Regions from separate parts of the Homo sapiens genome. Here regions 1, 2, 3, 5 and 6 are each reported to be linked to region 4. The links are microRNA targets in miRTarBase. Many come from high-throughput screens and were not tested one by one. Region 4 holds a microRNA gene; each other region holds the end of a gene's coding sequence.

The links. Region 4 holds the annotated microRNA hsa-miR-124-3p (UAAGGCACGCGGUGAAUGCCAA, at 2,046-2,067, opposite strand). A microRNA usually pairs through its seed, bases 2 to 8, with sites in the 3' UTR of a target mRNA and lowers its output. Matches are read on the target gene's strand: a 7mer-m8 pairs with bases 2 to 8, a 7mer-A1 pairs with bases 2 to 7 and ends in A, and an 8mer does both.
Region 1: the mRNA of MFSD1 is a reported target of hsa-miR-124-3p. The part of its 3' UTR that is shown has no 7-base or 8-base seed match.
Region 2: the mRNA of STX2 is a reported target of hsa-miR-124-3p. The part of its 3' UTR that is shown has no 7-base or 8-base seed match.
Region 3: miRTarBase lists ADAMTS1 as a target of hsa-miR-124-3p. The part of its 3' UTR that is shown has no 7-base or 8-base seed match.
Region 5: miRTarBase lists MALSU1 as a target of hsa-miR-124-3p. The part of its 3' UTR that is shown has no 7-base or 8-base seed match.
Region 6: the mRNA of PLP2 is a reported target of hsa-miR-124-3p. Seed matches in the 3' UTR shown: 7mer-m8 at 559-565.

Annotation. Positions count from the first base shown.
Region 1 is chr3:158,828,375-158,832,463 of GRCh38, forward strand. MFSD1 (major facilitator superfamily domain containing 1) reads left to right here. Exons shown (of 16, transcript NM_022736.4): 16 at 605-1,342. The coding sequence ends at 608. Among named protein-coding and RNA genes, the nearest start is that of MFSD1, 28 kb to the left of the region's middle.
Region 2 is chr12:130,792,427-130,796,515 of GRCh38, forward strand. STX2 (syntaxin 2) reads right to left here. Exons shown (of 11, transcript NM_194356.4): 10 at 3,569-3,694. The coding sequence ends at 3,614. Among named protein-coding and RNA genes, the nearest start is that of STX2, 45 kb to the right of the region's middle. RefSeq lists an enhancer at 798-1,092.
Region 3 is chr21:26,833,765-26,837,841 of GRCh38, forward strand. It overlaps ADAMTS1 (ADAM metallopeptidase with thrombospondin type 1 motif 1), which reads right to left. Exons shown (of 9, transcript NM_006988.5): 9 at 1,991-4,077. The coding sequence ends at 3,815. Among named protein-coding and RNA genes, the nearest start is that of ADAMTS1, 9.6 kb to the right of the region's middle.
Region 4 is chr8:64,377,188-64,381,276 of GRCh38, reverse strand. It overlaps MIR124-2 (microRNA 124-2), which reads right to left and starts at 2,128; the gene lies at 2,020-2,128. It overlaps MIR124-2HG (MIR124-2 host gene), which reads right to left. Exons shown (of 3, transcript NR_109792.1): 2 at 2,788-3,218.
Region 5 is chr7:23,309,197-23,313,285 of GRCh38, forward strand. MALSU1 (mitochondrial assembly of ribosomal large subunit 1) reads left to right here. Exons shown (of 4, transcript NM_138446.2): 4 at 160-2,533. The coding sequence ends at 347. It overlaps IGF2BP3 (insulin like growth factor 2 mRNA binding protein 3), which reads right to left. Exons shown (of 15, transcript NM_006547.3): 14 at 3,539-3,652; 15 at 1,013-3,264. The coding sequence ends at 3,166. Among named protein-coding and RNA genes, the nearest start is that of MALSU1, 12 kb to the left of the region's middle.
Region 6 is chrX:49,174,256-49,178,344 of GRCh38, forward strand. It overlaps PLP2 (proteolipid protein 2), which reads left to right. Exons shown (of 5, transcript NM_002668.3): 4 at 80-170; 5 at 417-980. The coding sequence ends at 439. PRICKLE3 (prickle planar cell polarity protein 3) reads right to left here. Exons shown (of 9, transcript NM_006150.5): 6 at 4,017-4,089; 7 at 3,738-3,924; 8 at 2,648-2,947; 9 at 547-2,010. The coding sequence ends at 1,418. Among named protein-coding and RNA genes, the nearest start is that of PLP2, 4.4 kb to the left of the region's middle. RefSeq lists enhancers at 2,245-2,746, 3,265-3,559 and a cis regulatory region at 3,161-3,661.

The DNA.
Region 1 (4,089 bases), not on the chromosome of region 4:
GATGGGGGTGGTTTTGGTCATATTAAATTCACTTTTAACAAATACATCTTAAAATAATCAGAAGTATGAGTTTTGAATATCTTTATGATAGTCATATTATGTTAAAAGTTTGGAAACAACATAAATGTCTTAGAGTAGGGAAAATGGTTAAATATATCATGACACATCCATGTGATATGTTGTTAAAACCATGTTTTAGAAGGATTTTTAATGTCATAGATGCTTAACATGCCGTATGCTAAGTAAACAAAAGATAAAAATGCAAATATAATATCCTAATTTTATTCAAGAAAAAGTATGCTGTCACATGCTTGTTTTAAACCCAATTACTTATGTATAATAGAAAATATACTACTAGAAATAACCTCATATTAATTGAAACCTCAGAATATTAATTAAAAACTCAGAATATTTTTCAAATTTTCTACATTGATCTTTTGTGACTTTTAGGATCAAGAAGAGTTAAAAAATTGCTCAGAAAAAAAATGTGTAGCTTAGTATTTGCTATTACATGTCTTGTAATGCTTGGTTTTCATTTTATAAGGCAGGTGAGCTTCATGTTTTTTTCTTCCTCTTTGGTAATTTATTGCGTTATGTTTTGCAGATGAGAAGTTAAAATGAATGTGTCATGAGAATGGGCTTAACACATCGTTGGTTTGAAAACTTCCATTTTTAAAAATTTAGAGTTTAGTCATTAGAAAAAATAATGGACTGGAAAGTTATATTTATATCCAAATATACCTATTTCAAAGTGTATTTGTGAGGCCTGTTTTAGCCTGTGTCTTTTGTATTGTGTGTTGCTAAAGAATTCTACTTTTAGTAGGCTAATCAACAATGAAAGGGTTAGAAAATTGCTGTGGAACATCCAGGTGAACTTCAGGAAAGACAGTGAAAAATGGAAAACGTTGGAGCTTCTGTTGAGATAATCTTCATTAGGTATATATCTTAGGGATACAGCCTTTTCTTTATCTTATAGCAGGAAAAAAAAACTTTTGAGGGAAATAGAAGGGCTGCGTTACACAAAATAAACAATGGCATTGTCATAGGCCTTCCTTTTACTAGTAGGGCATAATGCTAGGGAATATGTGAAGATGTTTTTATGAAGTCTCTTTCTGATCACGAACAATAGCTTGCGCTCTACTCTGTAGTTATGTGGATTGCCGAGCAATGACCCTTTTCAATTTCTTATTTCTGTGTTACTGAGGACCCTAATCACTTAGGGATGTAATTTTATAGTATAAACTTTCTGTACAGTTTTTCTTATAGTCTAATAAGTAAAAAGTGTCCTTCAAATTATGATAATTGCCTATGTACATGGATAAATTAAAACACTGCACACGGAGTACTTGATGTCTTCTTTTGATTTTAAAAAATACAAAAACACTGATTTTAACTTTTATTCATGCAGAAGATTATCTAGAAGAAAACCCAAGTCAGAATAAAGAGAACTTGCCCAATTACAGTCACTGAAAGATTATGGGGGTAGCTTTTTCTCCAGAGTAGAACTTTAAGTAACATATGTGGTTTTTTTTATATTAAGTAAAATATGAGTATGAAGCTTCTCTGACAAACTTTAAATACTTTTTAATATTTTTCAGCCTTAACATATTATTTGTTAAAGTCAAAGAATGCAGATATTTTAGACAAGATATTAAACCAATGTATTTAGCTGATTATATTGTTTAAAGCACATGGCATGATATTGTAAGTGTAAATGTTTGGGAACAGATTGAAAGTACGTTCCTTATGCAAGGTAGCTTGGCAGCTTTATTTACATCTGTTTTTCTGACTTACAGTTTATTGTGTTGATATGACTTGTCTCTGTGTCCCTACCCAAATCTCATCTCGAATTGTAATCCCTATGTGTTTGAGGGAGGGACCTGGTGGGAGGTGACTGGATCATGGGGGCAGTTTCTCCTATGCTGTTCTTGTGATAGTGAGGGAATTCTCATGAGATCTCATGGTTTAAAAGTGTGGCACTTCCCCTTCACACTCTCTCTCTCTCTCCTACCACCATGTAAGATGTGCCTTGCTTCGCCTTTGCCTTCTTCCATGATTTTAAGTTTCCTGAGGCCTCCCAGCCATATGGAAGTGTGAGTCAGTTAAACCCCTGTAATTTACAAATTACCCAGTCTCAGGTAGTATCTTTATGGCAGTGTGAGAACTGACTAATACATGTGTCATTATTGAGTTGTTAGTTCTTTAGGCTCTGACGCCATATGACTGTTTCAGCACATGGGTGTTGAATACCTCACAAGTGGGGGAGAGTGCAGGAAGTCCACACTACTTCTGCTGGAAGGCCCATGTGGCCTGGCCTCTTGCCTTGTCTCTCCACCGCCTCTGTGCCCCAGCCACAGTGAGCTGCTTACATGTTTTCAAATGGGTTGTGTTCCTTTCCCTCCCAGCGGCTTTGTCCACACTGTTCCCTTTGCTTAGAATGTTTTCTCCAAGGCTCTCTAGAACCTGTTTTTACCTGATTTATACCAGAAAACCTTAGCCCCCAGCCCAGAACCATTCTTCCTCATGGAAGCTCTTCCAGATCCTTCAGGGTGTATTGGGTTCTTCTAAGTTGCTGTGATCTTGCAGTTTTCCTTTTTAGCTTACCTCAACTTAAAATAATGAAGAATCTCTGATAATGTGGGTGTGGGTGTCTCTCTCTTCCTTAAATTGGAAGCTCCTTGAGGGCAGGGACTGCGTCCGTTTTGTTATCGATGATTATATTGATAGTGCCTAGCAAAAGTAGGCACAAAATAAATATTTTTTTGAATGATATATAAAAAGAGTAAATTAGAATAACCCTTTTGGAGGATGAATTGGCAATATGAATAAAAAGACCTAAAAGGGGGATGGTGGTGGGCTAAATGCCTTTTGGCTTAGCAATTCCATTTCTAATAACTTGTCCTAAAGAAACCATCAGACAAATATACATGTAAATATATTTTAAGAAAGCGTCTTCACTGCCAGATTTTATAATAGCCTAAAGTATAATAGAAAGCCACTCTAATTTACAATAATAGGGGATTTGTTAAGTACATCATATTACATACCTAAAGTGAAATATTAAGTAGTCATTAAATGGTTTTGTTAGAGAACATATTGACATGGAATAATGTTGATGACATTTTCACACGGAAGATTCATAGTGGTGCCATTTTTATAAAAACAAATATATCTGCATGATATGTACACCAGTGTCTCTGAATGATGAATTTCTATTGGCTTATTTATGTTTTCTGATTTTTTTTCACAATAGCTCTTTATTGTGTAATGAAGGTTTTAAAAACCCCACAAAGAATATAGTTCAATGCAAGTTTGAGTCCTGCTGTTTTAAAGTGATAATGTTCAGAAGGGAGGAAAGGAACAGGTAGTGTTTTTCAAAGAACTCTGGGGGTGAAGATGGGAGTTCAACAGTGCCATGAGTTAGAAATCAAATTTGCATTGCCAGGAATAAAATTGCACGTAAAGGGAATTTTCAGAGACAAAATGGAAAAGAATGGTGTCAAGGATAAACGAAACAATGCCTTTATTTTTTAGTCCTAGTATTCACTGGTAGCAAACAACAGCTCCAACTTGTGTGCATGCTGCTCATGATATCTGGAAGGCCTCAACTGCAGCCTCATATCCTTTGCCCTCTTCCATTTGAGTGTTCCTGAGTGCCCCAGTGGGGATTTGGTTGTAAGCCTTCAGCAGTGATTTGCTGCCAAAAAGTTCATGGAAGAAAGCTTTGAGTTTTTGTAAGAAATACTAAAAAGCCCTGACATCGTGTAGGCCAGACAGCCAAACTTAGTATAACTTATTAACATTTATTTCTCTCAAGTATATTAGTGTATATGGTCATGCATTCCTGTGCACATATCTTTTCTTCAGTGGATCTTTATCAGTTCCAGGTTCTGGCAGCTGCCTGCTACAGTAATCCACTGTATTCCCAAAACTGATCTTCCCCTTGTAGATTTGGCAGATTTATTGTGTAATGCAAATCAGTGGACCTACAGGGCATTTCATTTCAGATTATCATGTACTTGTAGGCATTTGTCATTTTGTCTTTTTGAAGAGGATCACCTTCGGTGTGTGTCTTCCAAGTTTTACCAC
Region 2 (4,089 bases), not on the chromosome of region 4:
AAACTTTAAACGAATTTCTTGTTGGCTGAAAAATCCTATTTTTTCTTTCTTTTCTGAAAGGAGGTGTCACTCTGTCGCCCAGGCTGGAGAGCAGTGGTGCAGACATGGCTCACTGCAAACACATCCTCCTGGACTCAAGCAATCCTCCCACCTCAGTGTCCCAAGGAGCTAGGATGACAGGCATGCACCACCATGCCCAGCTAATTAAAAAATATGTTTTTAAGAGATGGGGTCTTGCTATGTTGCCCAGACTAGTCTCGAATTCTTGGGCTCAAGCGATCTTCCTGCCTTGGCCTTCCGAAGTGTTGGGATTACAGGCATGAGCCACTGCACCTGGCCTTATCCATTTTTTACATTTAAATATGACAAATGTGTAAGAAATCAACAAGACATTCATTCATTCTTCTACTGCACTGATGGTCTGGAAGCAGGGTGCGACACAGCATTTAACTTTTTTAAAATTAACAAGTATCCTCACACAAGGCAAAGCGAGACCACCTTTGGCTTAATAAATGGAGTCTCCTCCAGGAAGCTTGTCTGAGGGAAGGAAAGGAAGACACAACAGGAGGCACCGCGCTGTAGGACTTTGAGTTCTCTTTTTGAACAGCAGAGATCCATCATTTTAATTACAGTTCCAAATGTACGAGTGCTTTTACCTAAGAAATCCTGTTTGCTGAGCCTGGACAGTTCCAAGACTGCCGGCTCAGTCAGTTATACAGGGTTATCAAGAGGCGCATGGCAGGCCCCGGTGAGCCTCCCAGTGACTCCTCAGGACCGGGGAGAGCTGCCTGCAGGAGGGCCCCTCCCTCAAACTCTGGTTCCCTGTTAACATCACGCACATTTCCTGCAAAGCCCCAGCCACTCTCTCATCCTCTATATGCGCTCCTACGCCCCACTCTCAGCACCTTCCTAGAGAAACCTCTTCTTCCTTTTCTCTGTGATGCCTTCCCTCCCTCCAGAGGGAGGCGCGCGCCCTCCCGCTCAGCAAGTGAGTGTGCTGGCAGCTGGGCCACCTGGAGTCAGCTCCACGCAGCGTGCTCTCATCTCCTGCTGCTGTTGTGCTGCCTGCCACGTGTCTGGGTGCTCGATGTGTGTGCACTTTCCTGCCACATCTGGCTTTCAGGATGACTGTCAACTACATGGAGTCTAGGGTACAGGACTCAGGAGTCATCTAATCTCCTGGTGACAGCGAGAGTGGAAAGGGTACACCCTGGGGAGTCCAGCTCCAGGTCTGGGCCAGGGCCCTCTCACCGAATACCTGTAAGACTCCACCTGTCTCCTTAAAGCAGCCCATCCCACCCATGCTCCGGGGTGACAGGCCTGCACCTGGCACACCCTGCAGGGAGGGGCAGCAGCCAGCCCCAGGAAGGCCAATTGCTAAAGGATGAAAGGCTATGTTAATATTTTAAAAGTGAAGTTAAGGACATTAACCACTGCCTTCCTATGCAAAGATAACTGCTGGTATTCATTTTGGTCTGCTTTTTATGAATGAGGATCCTTCTATGTTCATTCTTATTTACAGACACTAGGGTGAAATGGCCAGCCAGGCCCGGGGCACAGGACTTCAAGCCCCACTCCCCAGGGGTCACACTGAGAGGAGCCTTCTTTTAGTCAACCTTAATGCCAAGTAGTGCCCATGAAAAGTCGCGCATTTCACTGTGTCCGCGCTACAAATTGTAATTTTATCTTTAGTGTAACCACATTAAACTAACCATATTATAGCTACTAGGAAAAAACTCAGAAAGTACATGTTAGAATCATGAAAATATTGAAAAATACTACTATAACAATGAAGAAAAATCACGTACAATATTTTCAGCAAAGCTAAGAAGAAAAAAATAGAACATCTTGCCTAATAAACATCCTACACAAACATCCTGCCTAATAAAAATAGACGGTAAGAGAGTTCTGACTGCCAAATAATGGAATGTTAACACACGCAGCATCCCAGAGCTCCTTACAGAGTAATTTCAGGTGTAATTTTGTGGCTTTTGCATAAATGTCAGAAGACTAACTGGAAAACTTCTCATCTGGTAACTGCATGGTGAGCGTAACAGATGCTCACATTAAGATATCAATCTCTTGTTTTGAGATGGTCTCGCTCTGTCACCCAGGCTGGAGTGCCGTGGTGCGATCTAGACTCACTCTAGCCTCGACCTCCCCAGGCTCAGGTGATCCTCCTGCCTCGGCCTCTGGCGTAGCTGGGACTATAGGCACGTGTGCCACCATGCCCAATTAGTTTTTGGATTTTTTTTTTTCTGTAGAGACAGGGTGTTGCCATGTTGAAGGAATAAATCTTAAAGATTACAAAGCAATAGTGAGACTTAACCATGCTCGTGATTCCTTTCTGCTGTATGTTAACTTTTTAAAAAGCCTTGGGTGACTATCAAGTCTGCAGTCACTTCCATAACCCAAGAATAAATTCATTGGGGATGACTTGCCACACTCTAGACACCTGGGAACAGTTCACAACTGTCTAATACAAGAATTGTGCCAAACATTTACAGAGAAATCACTGCTGTGTCCACCTGTAACACACCGACAGCATTGCCACTTCAGGGCCAGTGCAAGGATGGCTCCCAATGCAGAAGAAAACCAGGGGGAAACCACAAAGCCTGCTGAAGTTTAGGAAAGGTGACACTCACACCTTGATTCTTTAAATAAACTGATACCTTTTATATTCAGAATTCTTTAAGAATTAACAGGCATGCTAACTAAATATAATACGTAATTTTCCTTTTAATATTAAAGGAAATATTTTTAAATAAAATAGATGCTGCCTATAGAAAGGTCGAAGGATGTTCCTTTCAGTCAATGTTTTTCTCAGCGTTCATCCATGCCCTCGATTCCATAGTAAAATGATGCGTTAGTGTATTTTATAAAGTACCTTTCAGTGTTGCAATTACTCTAAAAGCTAAAACTCAGGAGACAAAACATTACAACTGAGAATTAATCTTCACTGAATTTCTATGACATTTAATGAAGGATCCACTACATGTAAAGAGCTAATGGTCTTAGATCAAAAACAAAAGATTCAGGCTGAGTACAGTGGCTCATGTCTATGTATAATCCCAGCACTTTGGGAGGCTGAGGGCCAGGAATTCGAGACCAGCCTGGGCAATACAGAGAGTTCTCGTCTCTACTAAAAATAATTTTTTTAAAAATTAGCCGAGTGTGCTGGTGCACGTCTGTAGTCCCAGCTACTCGGGAGGCTGAGGTAGGAGGACAGTTTTAGCCCAGGAGGTCGAGGCTGCAGTGAGCCATGATCACGCCACTGCATTCCAGCCTGGGTGACACAGCTAGACCCTGTCTCAAAAACACTTTTAAAAACGGGATAAGAAGGTGACCTTGGTTTAAAAATGAGTTACCGCCCAGCCTGTGCTTGTTCTCAGTAAACACAGTGGCTGGGCACTCGAATCAGCACACAGGCAGATGTATCACTAGATGGCATTATCTGTACTGCGTGGCTGGCAAGCTTTTATTAGTTTTATGTCTATTACAATTAAGCAAATACTATTATTGGTTAATTGCAAAAGTTAATAAGTAAATTAGTTGATGAGTTACTTACTCCCACCCTGGCAGAGAGGCATGCACACTGACGTTATCCACACCATCATTTGCCAACTGACAAGCCAATAATTAGAGCGATTATGGCAACCAGAACCACTGACACAGCAATAATTATCCACTTTTTCTGTCAAAGAAAAGCAAGCTGATTATATCATGCATGGTTAATTTCATATTGCCACATTAAAAGACATCCTTCATTTAAAATAAAACGACCTGGCCAGGTGTGGTGGCTCACGCCTGTAATCTCAGCACTTTGGGAGTCCGAGGCGGATGGATCACCTGAGGTCAGGAGTTTGAGACCAGCCTGGCCAACATGGCGAAACCCTGTCTCTACTAAAAATACAAAAACCAGCCGGGCGTGGGTCTGCAATCCCAGCTACTCAGGAGGCTGTGGCAGGAGAATCACTTGAACCCAGGAGGCAGAGGTTGCAGAGAGCCAGGATCGTGTCACTGCACTCCAGCCTGGGCAACAGAGCAAGACTCCATCTCAAAAAAATAAAATAAAATAAAGCAAAACAA
Region 3 (4,077 bases), not on the chromosome of region 4:
TCTTGAGTCTGTCCATGTGCCCAGTACATGACCACCACAGCCGTATTTGAGAAGGCCAACACACTAAGGCTATTTATAACCACGGAAATCTCACAGGGTCTACGTCACTCCCTTCCCACCCACAACTGAGCTGGTACTGATATCCACTGCTGGGGGACCAGACAGATCACATCACTGGATCCCTTGCAAACATTCACCAGCACCAGCATGGAGTATGGAAACCTCACTGGGGATGAGACCCAGAGGAGCAGCAGTATTCACGGTAGTCTGGCCCTCAGGGACCGCTACTCTTAGGGGTGTGGGAGTGCATCACATTAAAGGAGCATCGTATGGGACAAAGGAAACCAGACTGCAGGCCTTGAGTCCCTGATCTTTCCACTGTGGAAAGTTTCTTTCAGCAGAGGCACAGCTCATCATTTATACCTGTAACAGGAGAGAGCACAAAATCTCTCCTTCTTTCAAGCAAGCGGTTAATCAATCTTCTAAAACCAGGATGTGTGTTTTGAGCTAATCTCTGCCAGCAGAGTATCTTAAACTACTCAGCCTACTGATGAAAAAAAAATTTCACCAGCAGAGGGCTGAAAAACAATGTGGCAACACCAGAAAGTTGTCTGACATTGCCTTGATCTGAGAGGATGATAGGAAATTTTTTGGCTGATTTGATCTCTTAGTGTCCTGAAGTTTAGTGTCATTACTTACATCAAATCAATCTAAGCTATTAAAAAGAAAAGAATTCTGGTGAATGAGGCAAGATCTAAAAGTGACTTTTTAATCTTATGAGCTATCATTTTAGATTTATATATCTCATTTTCTCAAATGGCATGTATAGTTAATGAGGGTCAGGGCATTTCTCATGTATATCCTCCATGTCACTTACTGTGGGGATTTGTACTGCACTAATGTAGACAAATAATTTATTGTGAGAGGTTGTTGTTGCAAGTGGCAAGTTAGGCCACTGAATTGAATGATTAAATTCTGCGTTTAAATGAGTTCTGGAGGAGCAAGACTAGTTCCCACAATGTGAGAAGATGACTTTAACTTTCAGTCCTTTAGTCTAGTAGGTAGGAAAAAAAAATAACCAGAAATTAATTTGATTCTCTGCACCTGTACACCTGACTGCTGAGAATGATATGTTCAATTGCTCAGGGGAAGAACACTTTGAATAACTGAGAGTAAGTTAGAAATTATCACCTATACATAAAAACTAGCATGCTATATTGTAATACCTGTGATATGGTTTGGCTGTGTCCCCACCAAATCTCATCTTGAATTGTAGTTCCCATAATTCCTGTGTGTTGTGGGATGCAGTGGGAGGTAAATGCATCATGGGGGCGGGTCTTTTCTGTGCTGTTGTTGTGATAGTGGATAAGTCTCATCAGATCTGATGGCTTTATAAAGAGGAGTTCCCCTGCACAGGCTCTCTCTCTTTGCCAGCCGCATCCACGCAAGACATGACTTGCTCCATCTTGCCTTCCGCCATGACTGTGAGGCCTCCCTAGCCATGTGGAACTGTGAGTCCACTAAACCTCTTTTTTTTCCCAGTCTTGGGTGTGTCTTTATCAAACTGCAACAGAAGAGGGCACAAACTCCTCCTTTCAAGGAAAAGAAGAAAAACGTAGAGTTCAAAATGTCTGTGGTTAACCACATAATCTGAGTCTTCTAGTAAATACTATTTCCTGGGAGAAGTGTAGTTACTTTGGAAGGAATCTGAACTTTTAGTTATTGATATGCCACTTAGTATTTAAAAGACAGTGATTTACAAAAAGACTATGCAGAAAGGCCTGGGCTTTCCAAGTTTTCTCCAAAACCCCTCAGGTATTCCTGATGAGCAAGTGAAGCATTTAGAGGGTTTAACTCACCATGTATGTCTAACGTTACTACATGTAATTTATGAGTCATTGTTTTCTACTCAATAGCTAAATACTTTCACGTATTTTTACTTATGGGATATAATTGAGGAAGAGATACAAATTCAAAAAGCATCCAGAACTGAAAGCTCTTTCCATTTAATTTATGGTATATACCAGGGTTGGCAAACTGAATCTGCAGAACAAATCTGACCCATTATTTGTTTTTGCAAGTAGTTTTTTTAGAACACAGCCATGTCCATTCACTTACTCATTCTTTATGGCTAGTTTTGTGCTACAACAGCACAGTTGAGCAGTTGTGACATAGATGGTATTGACAGGATAGTTATTGACAGGATTGACAAAGTTGCAAATATTTACCATTTGGCTTTTTACAAAAGAAGTTTGCCAACCACTGATGTATATTATTAGATACATTAGTAACAAATGACATCATAAATTTCTTTCTTTTTAGCAATCATGTATACCAAGGATATAAGAAATACATCTCATTAGAAAAAAATCTTCTATTCAGCCGTCTTGCTTCACCTTCCTCTAGAACAAAATCTTATTGCCAAATAATTTAAGAAAATAATTCGGTCTTCAGATTCAATATTTGTGCCTCAGGTTTCCTTCCTAGGAATGAATTCCCACTTCAAAAAACAGACACACACATTCCAAAAGTGTTCTTTTATTTCTAGTAACATATATTGTATAAATACTCTATTTTATATGCACTTCCACAAAAGCGATATAATTTAAAAGTTTTTTTCATTAGAAATAAATGTATAAAAATAAATATGTTATTATAGGCATTTATTACTAACTATAGTCCTTCTTGGAAGGAACACCCAAACCAATACTTATAAAGTACATGTAATTTATAGTAACATATTTTACTATATACATATGGAAAAAATCATATTCTCACAGAAGAGCTGAACAGACATTCACCAGGATACGACTGTTGGACCAGCTGCTGGAGATGGACCTGCTACCCCTCAGCAGCCTCCCCACCACAAGACAAGTGATCTCAATGTCCCCAAACCTGTGGGACCCTGTTCTACACACCTCATTTTTGTTCCGGCGTTTCATCCTCCTTGTGTGATTGTACTGATTTTCATGAGACACAAGTTACTTCTTTACATCCATATTCCCAAAGCAGGGTTACATGGTAGGAAAGAAAGGAAGTTGGAGGTACTAAGCTCATTGTGTCTCCTCTAGCTTTTACCAGCATCTAATGCTTCACTGCTTTTTTTCCATTGTAGACTTTAATGCACTTGAATAAATACATGGAGTTGTTTTTTCCTCAAAATGAATTACACAAATAAAGACTGAGATGGTCCAAAAAAGGAAAGAGGAAGCCATTTGCGTTATTTCACGTTGCTGAGCCTTTCTCTCATGTTGAACAATCTGAAGTTTTAATTCTCGGTAGAAATAATGTATAAACATTCTCTGAAACCATAGCAGCCATAAACAGTGCTGGTCAAAGATCCTATTTGTACTCCTTTCTCCCCCCATTGTTAGTGAGGTAAAGTAAAACAGGTCTTAGTAAAATCTCACTTTTCTCCTACTTTTCATTTCCCAACCCCCATGATACTAAGTATTTGATAAGTACCAGGAAACAGGGGTTGTAATAGTTCTAACTTTTTTTGACAATTGCTTTGTTTTTTCTAAACTTGTAATAGATGTAACAAAAGAAATAATAATAATAATGCCCGGGGCTTTATTATGCTATATCACTGCTCAGAGGTTAATAATCCTCACTAACTATCCTATCAAATTTGCAACTGGCAGTTTACTCTGATGATTCAACTCCTTTTCTATCTACCCCCATAATCCCACCTTACTGATACACCTCACTGGTTACTGGCAAGATACGCTGGATCCCTCCAGCCTTCTTGCTTTCCCTGCACCAGCCCTTCCTCACTTTGCCTTGCCCTCAAAGCTAACACCACTTAAACCACTTAACTGCATTCTGCCATTGTGCAAAAGTCTATGAAATGTTTAGGTTTCTTTAAAGGATCACAGCTCTCATGAGATAACACCCCTCCATCATGGGACAGACACTTCAAGCTTCTTTTTTTGTAACCCTTCCCACAGGTCTTAGAACATGATGACCACTCCCCCAGCTGCCACTGGGGGCAGGGATGGTCTGCACAAGGTCTGGTGCTGGCTGGCTTCACTTCCTTTGCACACTCGGAAGCAGGCTGTCCATTAATGTCTCGGC
Region 4 (4,089 bases):
TGATACATCTACATCCCGTGTAAAAAAAATAACTTAATGAACACATGTCTTTTAGGTCATTGTCAATGCATGGCCCATTGTTATACCTGGATCAAAATCGGTGTTGCTGTCTCTATTGTCCAACCTGAATTATTTTGTCTGTTACTAATTTTAACACCCTTTATGTTTGTGAATTTATAGACAAACTCAAGCAAATGCATAGAAATTTCTTTTGAGAAATAGCCAGCCAGGGTGGCTACGAATTGGTTGATTTTCCGTCTCTCTCTCTCTCTCTCTCCCTTGCCATTTTGATTCATTACTTAGGGAATTTAAATTTGTATTGTTTACATTTAATACTTTCAACATCTAAGAACGATGAAATATGCTAAGAAATTTAGATTTTTGAATATATCAATACTGACTCATCCAACCTTCGATTTCTAAGGCGAATTTTCACTGCATAAGATTTAGTAAACCGCCCTGCCTCTTTCCGTCGCGTGAGCTATGAGGATGTGGCTGAGGTCGGTTTTTCCGCAGTGCGGGTTTCAGGCCTCCTGGCCCTCCAGTGCCTCCCGCCGGCTGGGATGCGCCGAGCAGGCTCCTGCGCAGCAGAGCGGTCTGCAGAGCTCAGCCCTCTGTACCCGTCTACTAAGGCTGCCGGGCTGCAAGGCCTGGCCGAAGGTGGCAAGCTGCATGGGCTCCTGCCCTGTTTCACCTGGTGGGTCCCCGACCCACCCCTTCCTAGTTAAGCCTCGAGGCCCACACTTGAGTCCATTGCACGTCCCTTTGGTGACCAAGTAAGCACTAAAATCCGCGGCTGAGGACCTTATGTTTCTGTTTTAAGGAAGATGATTTAAGAAAGAAAAGGATAATAATAAAGCCTTCATTCTCCTCAATTTCCTTCTTGCAATCCTGCGATTTAGGTTTCAGCCTAAATAAAGTGGAAATGGTTTCCCCATACACTTACAATGTATGTATGTGTGCATTCCTACGTGAAGACCAAAAAGTGTCAGGCAAGGGTAGCAACCAGCTTGAGGGAACGATTTCAGTAAAATATTGTTTTGCTGTATGTGACCTTTTTCTCTTTTTAAATGTTATTTTTCAAATTACCTAATATCCTACTCTTCTTTTGAGTAGGGACGGGACGGTCCTATTGCTTTTCCAGTTTGATTACGGAGAGAGAAAAGGGCCACGGTCAGCACCGCGGACAGCGCCAGGCAGGGAGGGCGCGGCTACTTTGGTGCATCCTCTTAGCTCCTCTCCTTTGTTCCCAACCCCTGCAGGCCAAGGCAGAACAAAGACATCAAGGCTCGCTTTTTCGGCCTGGGTTTTTCTTTGGCTCCAAAGTCGTGGTGCGGAACTGCTACCTCAACATAGTCCACCTCACTGGCTTCCAAACAAATTAATTTACCGAGTCCTTCTAAAGTTTCTGACCTGGTCCTTTCACCTTATCCCACTCCTTTGACCGATTTGGACATTGCGACAATGCCAAAACAAGAGAGTTATCTTGGCGTCTTAAAGCCAGGCATGAACGCCTCGAGATTGGGAAGAAAAAGGGAGAAGTCAAGGGGAAATGCGGGCGGCAAGTGTTCTTCAGATCTTTCCAAAGTTTGGACGTTTCATTTGCTGTTTCTTGCGCAGTGTGGTCAGGACGCTATTTAATGTTACACCTCTCTCTGCTGTTTTGTTTTCCCAGCTTGGCCCAGGACTGCAGACAATCACACTACCTGTTCTTGAAAGAACTAGTGCTTTCTAAATGATTTAACTCTCTGGAATATTTGCACAGGCGGGAACTACTGCTCTCCAGACAGCTGTCAATGAAGCTTCCCTAAAATTCTCCTCGGAGATTTGCCTGCGGATTTCCGCGGCTGTAATGGAAAAGTAGGAGCCTTTCCCTTTCGAACACTAGGTTGCTTCCAGAATCAGTCCTGGGTGGGGGTGGGGGGCATTTATGCGGCAAGAGATGGGTTCCTTTTACTACCCCCTAAATTCCCTGCAATTGCTTTTTCCCCTTTCTGACCCTGAGATGCTTTGGTGTCCTTCAAGTGCAGCCGTAGGCTCCGCTCTTGGCATTCACCGCGTGCCTTAATTGTATGACATTAAATCAAGGTCCGCTGTGAACACGGAGAGCAGAGCCTCTAATCTTGATCCGGAAAGTATAAGACCCACTGCGATTACCACTCTTCTCTCCCTGCCCATCCCCCTCTCTCCGCTCTGAGTCTCTACCCCTAGAGTCATAACTCATAAGCCCAGCTCCTGTCTCTGCTCATCTCTGACACATCTGCCAGAGCCGCTGTTAATTAGTCTGTTCCGTGGAAGTGTAGACGGTGCGTGTGCCTGCGTATACATATGCATATATCTCCATGCCATTTACAGCACACGCCTAAAAACATACATAAGCCTATAAATCTAGTTTTCAAATGACGGCGTGGATCCAAGTTAATTACCCCTCTGGTACAGATCTAATTTTGTAATCGTGTTATTTTACTGAATGCAATTAACCCAGTTGGTTCGCCCTGAATCCTTTCTAAGGCACTTGTAAGGAATGGCAGGTTTTTAAGGACCACGCTATTGCATGTTCTCCGTCATAACCATTGCCAATCATTTTCTGCTGTCAGGGATGAAATCTAGCATATAAAAGAGAAAACCATGCGTGTGTGCCTGTAAGATAAACACACAGATATGCCTGGGCTCTGTGTCCTTTGATAACGTTACCGCGGGTTTGGTTGGGAGATTTTGGGAAAAGAGAGTCCAAGGGCGGGCTGGGTCATCTTTCTTTGTAATGCGGAAAAATTAACTCATCCGCACCTGCCTAGTCCCGAGAGAGCTGGGCGGCCCATCTGGTCTGGCTACAAGTTTGCTGCGGAGAGAAAAGCCTGCTCACTAAAGCTTCCCCACTGCCCAGGAGCGCGGACCTCGGGTCTGGGCCCGGAAGAGGGATTAGGCTCAGGGCAGCGCAGCCGACTCGCACTCCTCAGCCAGTGGCCACAGTCTGGGGCTGGAAGCGCCTGGGCCGGGCGGAGGGAGGGCAAGCAGGAGAGAGAAAAGGGTGAGGGAAGTTGACCTCTACGGGCGGAGCCCTCTGCGCAGCGGGCAGGAGGCAGCGGGCGCGACGGCTCTTTTCACGGCGTCCCCTACGGCGTGGTCGACCCGAGGGAAAGGCCCGCTCCCGCTCCAGAGTCCGAGGAAAGGAGAGAGAGCTGAGAGCTGGTCTTGCGCAGAGACCCCAGAATGCGCCCCTGAAAAACAGAATCAAAGCGCAGTGTTAGGGAGGCGGGAGAGAGGAGGGGGAGGGTGGGGAGAGGGACACGAGGCGGGAGGGAGCATGCGAGGGATACAAGGTGACAAGAGGACAGGACCCCAGTCGGCCGGTCGCGACCTCCGTCCCCAGGCTTCAGGGGGACGCGGAGGGGACCCTGAGCCCACGGAGCGCGGGGCCCGCAGCCCGGGGGGAGGGGGTGGCGCGATGACTGTAAGCGCAGGTCTGGGCTGCGGAAGTCCAGAGGAGGGTGCATGCGCTGCGGATACTGCCGCGTCCAGAGAAACGATTTCGGGAGCTGGAGCAGTGAAAACGAGTCCGCAGATGGTCCTTCTGTGCAGTCCCAGCCGTTCCCGCATTCTGCACCCCCTTTCCCAGCCTCACCCCCTCCCTTGGACCACACGCCAGACCCGCACTCTCGAATCTCCACCCCTCTTCGTTTAGGACCCTGCAAACTGCAAGACCGGCAAGAGAATCGAAACGATCGATGAGAGAAAGAATTACATATACCCATAGCCCTAGAAATCCGGAGAGAGACCTGCTAGCCCTGTTCAAACCTGCAGAGGACCAAAACGTTTTCAATCGCTGCTCAGCGCGTTCGCAGAGGAAAGAAGAGGCTGAGAGCCTTCCGTGGTATAAGGTGCTTTAAGGTGGGAGGTGGGGGTAGGGAGGGGGTGGGTCGGAGCGGTCCGGTCTTTCCCCCTCGCTTGCTGATCCAGAATTAGGGATTAATGGCTCGCTCCAGCCAAACAAATAAGGCATCTGCCTTCAGCACAAGAGGATTACACGGGCTGCTGACGTCACCAGTCAGACAGATGTTGGCTCCCAAAGTCCTGAGCAGCTCGCTGTGT
Region 5 (4,089 bases), not on the chromosome of region 4:
GTGGTATTTTTGCTGGGATGGAGTCCACAGTGATGCTAATCTGGGAACCACACTTGAGAACCACTGCTTTATTCCTAGAGTTAGCCAGTGTGTGTTGTAAGGTAAGAATAAAAGCAAATGAACTATTCCTTCATTGTATCTCTTATCTGTCCCTGACAGGCAGCATGGTGATTCATTTGATGCTTCCAGAAACCAGAGAAATCTATGAATTAGAGAAATTATGGACCCTACGTTCTTATGATGACCAGTTAGCTCAGATAGCACCTGAGACAGTACCTGAAGACTTCATTCTTGGAATAGAAGATGATACTTCATCTGTGACTCCAGTGGAGTTAAAATGTGAATAAAATATTTTATGCACTGCGTTAGTCATTTCAGATTTGGATTGAGTCACTTATTGGAAAATACAGCTCCTAAAGTCCGTCTCCTTGGTTAGGCTGCTCTTAGGACAAGGCTTGTGTACCTCATGGGCACTCCTGCTAACTGGCATGCAGAGACTGTCGATAAGTGAGCTATACCTGCAACCAAAAATCAGTACATTCTACCCAAAACTTATGACACGCTGCCTTTATCCTGGAAATGTCATCAGAATTTCCTGGAGTTAGCACTGGCTCCTGTGCTTGACTTCTCTGCTCAGATTTTTATTAATTTAATTTAGCTTAAATGTAAATCTTAACCCTGTTTGTTTAATGGAATGGCAAAAATTTTAAAAAATAATATAAAACATAGCCCACTGGTCTTATTTTTATACTTTGAGGTGATAATATTCTTCTAGGAGGACTTCTGTAACCCTTCCAGAATACTCCAGTAACACAAGAAAGTAAACAAAGTGTTTGTTAGGAAAAACTCTGAACGCTCTAGTTCTTAGTTCATATGCAAGAGTATTATCAAGGTTCACATTAAGTACCATGGCTGGACATGGTATAACAGAAATCTGCGTAGAGTTTGAAAAAAAATTCAGAACATTCCCATTCAATTGAAAACCAAAAATAAAACATACTACACAACAAGCTGCACCTAAATGATGAAAAAATTTATTCTGCGTCAAGGTATCTGGAAAATGAAGCTGCATTTGGGGCACATTATACATGAGGAATGATCCATATATGGTGAGTACAAAACTCAATTATAGAATTATTTCTTAGCTAGTACCAGATACTCCAAATTACAAATGCTTAAGTAAAAGTAAAATATGATTTGCCATACTAAAAGGCTAGAAGTGAAATATGACAGAATTTAAACCAGCAGATATAAATGCAGCACCTATGTGTATATTTTTAAAAAATCAAATATTGGGGAAAAAAATCAAATACTGAGAAAAGCTCTGGCCTTAAACACATCTTACCTGAAATCCAACCAGAAAGCCAGTCCATGATTTTAGCAATTTTAATTCATTGTATGAAAAAAAAATCATGAATGCTAGGAGAATCCAGTGACAAAAAGGGCACTTTTTTGGTTAAAACTACAAAAGAAACTTGTTTTCAGAGAACATTAAGGAAAACACTTTAAATCATTTTCAAAATGTCTAATTGATCTTCAGAAAAACATCTAGTCTGTATAGAAATTCATCTTGAAATAAGAATGAGGCAGTGATTTTTTTTTTAAAGGGTTATATATATGTCCTTTAGATCAGTGTAACATGACTGTGATCATCTTACAAACAAAACTCAAAAAATCAATTCAGAGAGCAGCGTGGCCTTGGAGACCACCCACACCCAACACAATTGTACGTACTGGGCTTTGCTGTCAAGGAGTGAGCAAATGAGTTCGTTATCAAAGGTCATATGTTTTCACAGTCATTCAAATTATATCCCAAAAACTTTTCTTGTATTCTCTATCTTTTGACTTTTTTTTCAAAGAACTGATTGCACAGTATACAGAAATCCTGTTATACTTTACTACTTAAGGTGGAGTCTAATTTTTTTTTTTTAATTTATCAGTGCTTAAAAATCTTCAAAATAGCTTAGTGAGGCTCATGACAGTGCTGGCCCCATGGAAATGTAGCCTTTTGTTGCGTTTAAACACTGTCACACCATCTATGACTGTCCCATTGGTCTGAAGTGTAGTGGCAAACTAAGCATCCTATAAGACAAGCTAAAGCTTGCTTTTTGCCAGTCAGTTGAAAGTCTTGCATCTCTTCACTGATGCACTTTCTTTAGGTATTGATAGTCAGAAGCACAAAGCATTTATTATGCATTCAATCATGTAGCTAAACAAAAAACTGAAGTCTCCTGAAGCCATTTAAACCAGCCGTTCCAAAATCTCCTGCGACCACTTTGTTAGTACCGTCAAAAACTTTCCCAACTATAAATGAAAGAATAAATGGTAGTGCTGCTCTCCAGATACTAGGCACTGCTCCGTATTTTTGAACATTTGATTTAACTAATAACTGTGTCAAAAGCCTCAAAAAACCCTGAAATTAATTTTCCAGCTTTACTGTCACCAGCCAGAAGTAAAAATCTTAATTTGCCTGTTAGCTGATTGCTGTTAAATTTTAAATTTATTTTTTAAAAAACGGTTGGACTTCTATCATTATAAAGTATATAAAATTTTCAAAAAAAAGGAACAATTTTGCTTTTCATTGTATTACTGAATACCTGAGGTAGTTGAGTAAAAATGCACGTTTAATACCCCTGCCAACACCATTCAGCACTTCCCTTAGGTTACTCATGTTAGTGTTAGGTAAAAATAAAACTGAGAACAGTTTTTCTATGCTAATGGCTTAACATTTAAGTTCCTGTGATAATTATTCTGATCCAATTTTAACAATTGGATTTAGGAGCAATCTATTTGATGAATTTAGTGAAAGCATCATTAAGCCAATTTCTGGCATTATGGGGGAATATTAAGAAGAATTAGAATATCTGTTATACTGTGAGACTACAACAAAGGGAAGTGCAGAGCTCTTCTCTTTCCCTCCCTCCCCCACCCTTTTTTTGTTTGTTTGTTTGTTTGTTTTAAAGCTGGGTGTCATACATTTCAGAGAGCATAAAGTATACATTCTCACAGAGACAGGAGTTCAAAAGTTGCCTGGTCCTCAGAAACAACTGGCTAGGTAAAAACTTGTGCATGTGATTCTGGATAGGGGGTCAGCGCCCATCTGTTGGTTAAGCAATCTGTCTTTGGTTTGGCATCTGCCTCTGTGGTGGGCTGTTTCCTGAGCCTTTACTTCCGTCTTGACTGAGGTGGTCCACTTTGCAGAGCCTTCTGTTGTTGGTGCTGCTTTACCTGAGTCAGAATTTCCTGAATTTTTCTCTGGGCAACCTAGAAAAGGACAGAGCTTTGAAATTCCACTTGATCAAAAGCTACTAAAAGTTATTGTACTCCTTCATTTCAACAATTTCAAATAGAAATCCATTTGATGATTAAAGATACATACTAGTCAGTTTGCTAGTAGTCTCTGAAATCACCCGCTAAAAGGGAGATGAAAAGTCTTAAGCATCAAACAACCTTAACTAATTCTATCAGGTAGGAGCACCTGTGGGAGAATTGCTTCCACGTGAGAAAGATACAATAGCTTATTTTAGAGCCCACTTGCCTGGCAAGCATAGAAGTGACCAGTTATTTTGACAACCACTTGGTCATTCTCATCAGGTGTCTGGTCACGAGGGACAACAACTTCTGCACTTGACAAATTCTGAAGTTCATTCACCTGAAAGAGATAAATATAAATCACATTAAGTGGCAGTTTTAAAACCTTACTTCCTAAGCACTTACTGTGCGCCAGACAGTGAGCTATGTATGGCTTTACAAATTTCATTTAATCCAGTGGTAATTCCATGAGGTTATTAGAATTATCCCCACTTCAAGATGATTAAGGCTCATCCAAAGAAACTGATTTGTCCAGTTATACAAGTGAATGGCAAAACCAGATTCAAATCCTGAGTCTGATTCCAAAGTGTATGTACTCAATCACTTCAAAATTATAAATAGCTTTGAAACCCACTTACAAGTTATATGTATTAGAGACTAGAAACAGTTTGCTTTTTTTCCATTACAGATGTAACAAGCTGTAGATGAAATTTTTAAAATTCCTGTTAAGTGTCTGTTCCATAAAAAGCTAAAGTTTTATCAGGAGAACGTTAAATG
Region 6 (4,089 bases), not on the chromosome of region 4:
GTGGTGGATACAAGAAGATAAGAGACTGAGTAACCTGACCAGCTAATCTAAACCCCCTCACTCCTATCCTGTCCCCCAGGTACTGGGCCTAATCGCTACGTGCCTCTTTGGCTATGATGCCTATGTCACCTTCCCCGTTCGGCAGCCAAGACATACAGCAGCCCCCACTGGTAAGTGTGTGTGTGTGTTGGTTGGGGGTAAGGGGGTTGCTGAGAGGGCAGAGGGAAAAAGGAAAGGGATCTCTTAAAGGCACGAATGCCAACTCTGGTCTCGTATTGGTACTTAGGGCTTTTGTACCAATAGGTACCATAAGCTTCGGTATTCTTGTGTGTAAAATGTTCATGGACTTTGGATCTTGTTTTAAAAAATGGGCATATAGATTCAGCCAATGCTTTCTCTCTTTTCCTCACCTGCAGACCCCGCAGATGGCCCGGTGTAGGCGAACTTCCCTCATTTCTCTCTGCAATCTGCAAATAACTCCTCCATTGAAATAACTCCTCCCCACCCCAACAACAACATTCCCAGCAGACCAACTCCCACCCCCTCTTTGAGGTAAAAGTGCCTTTATTGGGAGACTTTTGTCTTCCAGCCTGCCAATCAACCCTCCTGGGTGTGGCCACCATATGTGTGTGCCTAGGTCCTCCTTCTGCACGATCCAATAGGAGACACCAGTTCTGACTGAACCATGCCCCCACCTAAGTCACAAAATGAGGGAAGTGGGGAGTTAGATTTCAGAGTCCAGGCCCTAGGTTGGGACCCACTCCAAATAATCTCCTCGGTGTGGGTGGTGGTTCTATAGAGGGATAAATGAATAATAAACATTGTTAAAATATACGATAATGAATAAAGTAATCCTTTCATCAAATGTGGGTAAATTTCAAGCATCAGGAGGGGGAAATGGAGTGGAAACAGCTGGGGCAAGGAGGCAAAGAAGCCAGGCCTGTTTTACAACAAATATTAAATTACTTCAATAATACAAACGAGAGGCCCGGTGCGGTGGCTCATGCCTGTAATCCCAGTCCTTTGGGAGGCTGCGGGAGGATTGCTTGAGCCCAGGAGTTCTAGACCAGCCTGGGCAACATGGCAAAACCCCATCTCTACCAAAAAATTAAAAAATTAGCTGGGAACGCTGACACGAGCCTGGAGTCCCAGCTACTTGGGAGGCTGAGGTGGGAGGATAGCTTGAGCCCAAAACTTTTGAGGCTGCAGTGAGCCCTGATCACACCACTGCACTCCAGCCTGGGCAATAGGGTAGACCAAGTCTCTAAAACAGAAACAAAAATAGAAACAAACTGATAAAGGAGGGAGGAAGAGGATTTATGACTTAGGTTGTAGGGGCGGGGCGTGGGGGTGAGGGGCATGGGCCTCATCATCTACTCTGACTGGAGAATGGAGCCCCCTCCAGGACGGCCTGCCTTCAAGCCACGATGCAGTTCTTGTCTCGGGCCTGACGAGGCATCCCTGCGCGAGAGTCCCTGGGGAGCGATAAAGATGGGGAGTTGAAGGTCTCCATTGCAGTGTCCTGAGCAGGCATGGGCCTGCACAAATGCGGGGGCAGAGGGATGCGCTCTCCTAGGAAGAAGCCATCATCCTCTGATGATTCGGAACTGGAACTGGAGGGCGAGCTGGAGCAAGATTCCGAGTCTGACCCTGATCCCGCGTCACATTGATAGTGGCGACGTCTGCTTGGGTGGCGGTTGTGATGGTGATGGTGATTATGATGATGGTGGCGGCGACGGCTGGGGGCCCTGGGTGGGGGACTGCGTGGCCTGCGGCGCTGGGCCGGGGGTGCACTCAGGGTCCGGCGCGGGCCTCCTTCAGACACCAGAGGGTCGCGGAAGCTGACGCGTGGGGTGCTCTGACGACCGAAGGCACTATCATCTGGGCGCAGGTTAGGCTGGCCGGGGGACTCTGGGGGCGGCTCGGGGACACTGCGGAGCCCCAGTTCCGGCATGGAGTGGCGGTGGGGAGCCCCTCTCAGAAAGCGGGAGGGCTCCTCAGGGCCTGTAGCTGTTAAGGGGGAGACAGAGTGACTCCTTGTATCTGCCCTCCCACTGGCCCCCTCCTAAGAGGAGGCCTGCGGAAGGGCCTTCTTTCCTCCACTAAGACTGGGAAAGTGGGGGCAGGGGTCGGAGAATGGCAGGGAGGTGGGAAGTCTGGGAAGTGTGAGGCCTGGAGCAGGCTCTGGGTGTTGAGAGGGTTGGAAGGAAGAACACGGAGCAAGATGGGACTGGTGTGGGGGGCGTGGCCAGGGCACCCGGGGTGGCTTCGGATGGAAGAGGTGTGGCATAGGCTGGAGTAGATTTGGTTTGCAATAAAAGGGGTGGGGCCTGACTGCAGAGGATGAAGGGTGACCGGCTGGAGAAGAGGAAGAGGAACTTGGGGTCAAGCAGAGACAAGTTGAGGTAGGGGACCAGCCCTGTATTGACAGGGTGGAACCAGGGTTCATGAGGCGGGTGTAGTTTGGGATGGAAACCAGGCCTGGACTGGTGTGGGGAAGGAGGATGAGCTGAGAAATGGGCGGGGCCCAGGGATACAGCAGGTGAAGGGCCTGGGCTAGTCAAGAAGGAAGGGCCAGGGCTGAGGCAGGGGCAAGGACATAGGGGTGACTGGGCTGTGGCTGGGTGTGGCTAGAGGGTTAGCTCACCTGGCGCTAACTCTGTGCTGGTGCCTTTGGTGGTGGTCTCTGATGCCCCCTTCACAGCAGAGAAAGAGGCTGTGGAGGCTGCAAGTGGGGCTGTGACAGGGCCGGCACTCCAGCTGCGGCGGCTCGGCCCTGGAGCTGTGGGCTCGGACCCAAGGCTGCAGGCTCGAGAGCAGAAGATTAGGCCTCGGCGTGGCAGGAATGGGCGGCCCAGCAGGGCCCGCCCACAGCGACTACAGCAGAAGCAGCGGTCTGAGGCATGCCAGTGCTGGCCCTCGTAAGCCATCTGGCCTTGGTCCAGGCCTGTGGGGAACGACGAGGGGGAAAAACTGAGGCAGAACCCCCAGGCGTAACCCCACCCCTCGTGAACGAGTCCCTTCTCAAGAAGAGGTGGGGAATCCGAGGCAGGGCACCCCTGGGTGCCTTCCTCCCTCCTCCAGAATGGGGCCCTTTTGGAGAAAGCAGGAAACAGGTTTTGGTTCTCTCCTGGAGACTGGCTGGTGAACCTCTCTCTCACTCCTCCCTTTCTTTCCCAGGGTGCTCTCTCCCAGAGCGGGGTGGGCATTGGACTCTAAGATTCGGGCCAGGCTTAGACATTAGGGGGTGGCTCCAAGTGGAAGGAGAATGGAAAGCTGGGCCTGAAGAGGAGGCCTGGCTGGTGGGGGCAGGGCTTAGCAGGTGGGGAGTGGCCCTGTTGAGAAAGGAGTGGTTCTCAGAGGATAGGGTGTAGCTAGAAGCTAGGCCTGACTTAGGCTGATACAGGAGAGTGGAGGAGAACGGGGCACAGCTTGGGGTGGTAGAGGCTAGGAGTAGGGCGAGCCCTGGGGCTGGAATTAGAGCACCCTCTGGAGGTGGGTGTAGACATGTGGTGGTGGCCTAGCATTGTGTTAGGTGGGGTTTAGAAAGCATGGCATAGTGGGGACATTGGGAGTGGGACTTGCAACCAAGCGTACAGGTCTATAGTGTTGGGGCTGGACAAAGTACAGGGCACAATGGAGGATGGGGCCTGGAGGACAGGAGGAGTCCTGGTGGGGTAGGACTGTGGCCCAGCTGTCCATCCATCCCTCTGTCCAGTCCCACAGCATTCACCCACCGATGTGCTCCCCACAGCCATCACAGTACTCCGCGTGGCGGGCCTCGTAGCAGGCGCAGCAGTGGGGGCGGCTCTGACGCATGACATAGCGCTGCCCTCCTAGTGAAGCTTCACACTCAAAGCAGCAGAAGTGATCCATGTGCCAGTGGCGGCCCTCAGCCTCCGTGCACTCAGGGGAGAAGATGATCTGGAGGGCGCAGGCCATCTGTGGCTGTCAGATGAGCCTGCTCCTGGCCCTGCCCACCCTCAACTCCCACCCCTGGGCAGGGAGGCCCAAACCTCGTCACAGGCTTGGCAGCGTGGACGCAGGCATTCGGCATGGTGACGCCCGCAGTAGACCTTGCCAACATGG